Regions from separate parts of the Homo sapiens genome. Here region 1 is linked to region 2. The links come from fine-mapping of genetic effects on gene expression. A gene starts in region 2. The other region holds a variant in brackets. All regions are shown on one strand. Distances are between the middles of the regions. Region 1 has its middle 11 kb from the start of FTH1. Region 2 holds the start of BEST1 (bestrophin 1).

What was found.
Region 1: its variant is fine-mapped to the expression of BEST1 in whole blood (TOPMed, PIP above 0.99).

What each region holds. Positions count from the first base shown.
Region 1 is chr11:61,977,334-61,980,245 of GRCh38, forward strand. No RefSeq gene overlaps it. Among named protein-coding and RNA genes, the nearest start is that of FTH1, 11 kb to the left of the region's middle. RefSeq lists a silencer at 1,048-1,264. The variant A/C (reference allele first, on the strand shown) is at 1,486.
Region 2 is chr11:61,948,730-61,951,641 of GRCh38, forward strand. BEST1 (bestrophin 1) reads left to right here and starts at 1,622. Exons shown (of 11, transcript NM_004183.4): 1 at 1,622-1,698.

The DNA.
Region 1 (2,912 bases), 29 kb after region 2:
GTCAGAGCCAGGAGAGCCTTCCCATGGGAAGGGGCTTTACATGCTATTACCTTTCTCATCTGTTTCCAGCTGCACGGATGATATGCTAACCCCCTGTCAAACATCCCTGCCTTTTGTAATTCTTTGAAAGCATTAGTTGGAACCAAGTGGCTCTCGTTTTTCCCCACTATTTACTCACCTATCCAGCTGCCCTTTCAATATCGTGGGTGTGTATGTGGGTGGACAGGGGTGTGTATGTGTAGTGGCAGGAATCCGGATGTTTTGCTTTTTGCTTTTTTCTGGAATTGATTTCTCCAGATCCATACCTACTCCCCAATATCCACCTGTCTTCTGGACACTAGATCCAGATTTTCCTCTGGGGAACTATTTCCCTCCCTCCAACCTCTGTGATGTGCTATAATTGGAACTGCCTCCATCCCTAGATTCAGGGATAGACATGTTTTGTTTTACTTGCAACAGATTTTTCAGTCAACTTACCTTTTATATCAGGGGTCCCCAACCCCTGGTCCATAGACTGGTACCGAAGGTGCATAGACTGTGCACCTCCAGGCTGCATGGCAGGAGGTGAGCAGTGGGTGAATGAACATTACCTCCAAGCTCTGCCTGCTGGTTATCCCAGCTCTGCCTCCTGTCAGATCAGCAGTGGCATTAGCTTCTCATAGGAGTGTGAACCCTACGGTGAACTGCACGTGACAGGGATCTAGGTTGTGCGCTCCTTATGAGAACCTAACTAATGCCTGATGATCTGAGGTGGAACAGTTTCATCCTGAAACCATCTCCCTCCCCCACCCCTTGTCCATGGAAAAAATTGTCTTCCACAAAACCGGTGCCTGGTGTCAAAAAGGCTGGGGACCACTGTTTTACATCATCTAAATGGCAACTGATTCCTGCATGGGTCTCAGAATTTTCAAGACAGGAAGGAGCCTTTGAGACTATCTAATACTTTCAATCACTCAACTAATGTTTTTATTTTGTTATTATTTTTTTAAAAATAGAGACAGGGTCTCAACTCTGTCACCGAGGCTGGAGTGCAGTAGCACGATCGTAGCTCACTGCAGCCACCAACTCCTGGGCTCAAGTAGTCCTCCCACCTCAGCCTCCTGAGTAGCTGGGATTACAGGTGCATGCCACTACACCTGGCTAATTAGAGCAATTTTTGATGGGGTCTCACTATATTGCCCAGGCTGGTCCCAAACTCCTGACCTCCAAAGATCCTCCTGCCTCAGCCTCCCCAAAGCTTGGGATTACAGGCCTGAGCCACTGCACTTGGCTTCAAACATTTTTAAATGCCAGCTCTATGCCAGTCCTTGGGTTAGATGAAGAAAATGATATCTGGGGCTGGGGATTTGGGGTGACCAGATCAGGGTTACAGGGAAAGTCGGTGGCTGAGCCAAGGACCAAAACCTAGGCCTTCTGACTCCCACACCAGCCTTCTTTCCTCATGCTTCTCTGCTTCCTGAGATTAAATTCTTCTGGCAGTGCTCA[A/C]GTACGGTTATGTGATTATGAAAAAACACAGGGAACTCTGTGCCAAGCAGCTATCATTGGTTTCCTGGGCAGGGTTGCAGAGAAAGAGGAGAAGGACAAAGGAACTTCTCCCACCCCTGTGTGCCAGCCTCAGCTCTCTGGCGGGGGGCAAAACAGGCTCGTGGGGCTGCCTGAGGGCTTGTCCTCTGGTGTCCCTCCTCTGGGCCCCAACAGTCCTCTGCTTCATCCACACCAGCCCCTGGGGTGCCCCACCGCACCCCTGGTCCCCCGCCTCTGTCCTTTGTTGAAGTCTTTCCTCCCCTAGCTGTTCACTTTTATCTATCAAAGATCCACCCTTTCTCCAAGCTGCAGTCCAGATCCTGCCTCTGCCGAGAAGTCTTCCTGGATTCAGAGCTTGTCTCTTATTCCTGCTAATGTTTATTCCTTCGGCCTTTACTGAGTGACAGGAGGCCCTGTGCCATTGCATCATCATAGGGGAGGCTCGTAGGAAGGCATCATAGGAGGCTTGTAGGAAGCTGGTCTTCATCTCTGCTCCCAGGAATGGGACCAGGCCCTGGCACCTGGCAGGGCCTCAGCTAAGACTCTGGTTGGATGTGATTGAATCATCGTGAGAAAGGGGAATCCTTGCCCTGCTGGGGGGCGAAACGGGGGGTAAAGTTAGGACCCCCTGCCCTGCCCCATCTCACAAGCGTTGTGAAAAGGTCTTGAGCTTTGTCTGACTGGGTCTCGCTTGAGCCAGTACTGCCCCGTGAGAGATGGTTCTTTGCACTTAACTCCAGGTAACGGAGGGCCCATCCTGCAGTTTCCCCTTAAGAGCCTGGAATGGGAGCCTCGGGAGTTGGAACTGGTCTCTGGAGTTTGCCTTAAGCCCAACCAGCTTGGTCAGCTCTTTAGCCCAAAACTCCTGTATTCCAAGGGCAGGGGTCCTCAGGCCCAAGCTCCACCCAGCTGGGTGGGTTAGACTCAGACTCTTTTCTTAAAAATGAATCAAGTAAGAATAAAAACTAATACTTATTAATAAAAGCAGATACTTCTTGACCCCTTACTACATAGGCCAAACATGTCATTCGACAGATGAGGAAACTGAAGCACAGAACTACAAAGTACCTTGCCCAAGGACACACACCTGCTGTTCCAGTCCAGAGCCCACACTCTGAACCGCTCCTTGTCCCCACCCACTGCCCAGATCATTCGGCTCCATCCTGTTATCCACTTGTCATTCCACTGTTTGCCCATGGTGCCTCCCATATGGGGATTTAGTAAATGCTTATCAAATGGGGGTGCTTATTGAATTTGAGATTTCTGTTTGTTTACCAGGTTATCCCTAGCAAGGCATGGAGGGAATAAGGGGGAACAACAAAAATGCTGGATGCTGGGCTGGGCGCGGTGGCTCGCGCCTGTAATCCCAGCACTTTGAGAGGCTGAGG
Region 2 (2,912 bases):
GCAGTAAATACTCCTACAAGGCTGCCTCTAAAGAGAGTCTTATAATAACAACAGCTTTATTGTTTGCCATGATTAGAAAAGTATTCAAGGTCATTGCGAAATAGTGTTTTTTTTTCTAGGCAGATAATTATATAAAGGCAAAAATGGTGTGTGGGGGTGGGGGACAAGGGGAGGGAGAGCATTAGGACAAATACCTAATGCACGCAAGGCTTAAAACCTAGATGATGGGTTGACAGGTGCAGCAAACCACCATGGCACACGTATACCTATGTAACAAACCTGCACATCATGTATACCTATGTAACAAACCTGTACATTCTGCACACGTATCCCAGAACTTAAAGTGAAAAAAAAAGTGGTGTGTAGAAAAATCACCTGCAATCTCAGCATAGTTAACGCTTAGTACATTTCAGAGAGAGAGGGTGACAGGAAAGGGAGGATGAGAGTGGGTTTAAGACACAAGGTCATATTATAAAATCAGGGCTTCTGGAAGTTTAGTCCCAAAACCACACATCTCATAATCCCCTGCAGTGCTTGATTAAAATGCAACATCCCTAAGGCCACAGACTCAGACTCTGGAGAAAGATCCAGAAAACTGCCCGTTTAATAAACATTTGGGCGATTCTTACGGCCTCTAAAGACCAAGAACCACTGCTGCCTAGAGCTCTGCTCTCTTCATTGAACAATACAAGAGGAGTGTGTAGGTAGACACCCACCACTTCCAACAGCTTAGGAGAGCCCTTGAGTATGGATTGATGTATTAAAATTTATTGAATCACATGCTGAGATTTTCACCAGCTGCCCGTGGGGATCTGGGCATTTATTCCCATATTGCACTGGCTGGCTGGAAGCCAGCAGCATAAACTCCAGGGCTGTTCTGTCAACCCCCACCAGACTCACCCCCCTCCACCAGCCCCGGCAGGCTTCTCCTTCCATCTCTCTGAAGCAACTTACTGATGGGCCCTGCCAGCCAATCACAGCCAGAATAACGTATGATGTCACCAGCAGCCAATCAGAGCTCCTCGTCAGCATATGCAGAATTCTGTCATTTTACTAGGGTGATGAAATTCCCAAGCAACACCATCCTTTTCAGATAAGGGCACTGAGGCTGAGAGAGGAGCTGAAACCTACCCGGGGTCACCACACACAGGTGGCAAGGCTGGGACCAGAAACCAGGACTGTTGACTGCAGCCCGGTATTCATTCTTTCCATAGCCCACAGGGCTGTCAAAGACCCCAGGGCCTAGTCAGAGGCTCCTCCTTCCTGGAGAGTTCCTGGCACAGAAGTTGAAGCTCAGCACAGCCCCCTAACCCCCAACTCTCTCTGCAAGGCCTCAGGGGTCAGAACACTGGTGGAGCAGATCCTTTAGCCTCTGGATTTTAGGGCCATGGTAGAGGGGGTGTTGCCCTAAATTCCAGCCCTGGTCTCAGCCCAACACCCTCCAAGAAGAAATTAGAGGGGCCATGGCCAGGCTGTGCTAGCCGTTGCTTCTGAGCAGATTACAAGAAGGGACTAAGACAAGGACTCCTTTGTGGAGGTCCTGGCTTAGGGAGTCAAGTGACGGCGGCTCAGCACTCACGTGGGCAGTGCCAGCCTCTAAGAGTGGGCAGGGGCACTGGCCACAGAGTCCCAGGGAGTCCCACCAGCCTAGTCGCCAGACCTTCTGTGGGATCATCGGACCCACCTGGAACCCCACCTGTGAGTACAAGGTGCCCCAGGTGGACTGGGCTGGGGCTTTGAGGCCTTCAGGGTTGGATGGCCATCTTGCGTATTTGTGTGGGATATGCACACACAGGCAGCACATGCGCAGGTGTGTGGGCACCTGTGTGTCTGTGCAAATGCCCTGAGGTGGGAATGAGCTTGGTGTGCATCAGGCACAGCCAGCCAGTGTGGCTGCAGCAAAACACACAGGGAAAGAATGGAGGGGGCATCAATCACTGCTTCAGTAAATTTTTATTGAGCGCCTTCTACGAGAACACAAGAGGAGCTTCCATTCTGAGGAGGAAACAGGCAGGAAACAGGCAGATATCCTGTATAATTTCAAGTAGTGATAAGTGCTCTCTAGAAATATCAAGCAAGGTGAGGAGACACAGAGCACCGGTGGCAGTGGGGCTCTATTTCCAGGTTGGATGGTTGGGAACATCCTTTCTAAAGGGAACCTGGAGTGGGAAGGAACCATGCAGGTATCTCAGGAAGAGCTTCCTCCAGGCAGGAAGATCAGCAGGTGGAAAGGCCCTGGAGCCACCATTCAGTAAACATCATTTGAGCATCTCTACCAGCTAGGTTCCATTATGGGAATGGGAATATGGTGGTGGACAGGGCTGCCTGGTCCCTTCCATACTTCTCACACTAGGGTGGTTGAGAGAGCTTGGGAGCTAACGAACAAGATGGGCTGAGAACACTGCCTAGCCCAGAGGACCTGAGCTTAGTGTGTAGACATTGCTGCTGTTACTGCCTTTGTCATTGTATTATTTATTTATTTATTTATTTATTTTTAGACAGAGTTTTGCTCTTCTTACCCAGGCTGGAGTGCAATGGCGTGATCTCAGCTCACTGCAACCTCCACCTCCTGGGTTCAAGCGATTCTCCTGCCTCAGCCTCCTGAGTAGCTGGGATTACAGGCACCCGCACCACGCCTGGATAATTTTTTTGTATTTTTAGTAGAGACAGGGTTTCACCATGTTGGCCAGGCTGGTCTCGAACTCCTGACCTTAGGTGATCCACCTGCCTCGACTTCCCAAAGTGCTGGGATTATAGGCATGAGCCACTGCGCCCAGTGATTATAGAAAGTTAAAGGCACATGGCAATGCACACGCCTATCTACGTCTTCCCTGCCAAAGCAAAGGGCAGCCTCTGGGCTCACTTTCTTGCGTTTCTACTTCCAAAAGGCAGTCAGAACTGGCAGGGCCTTG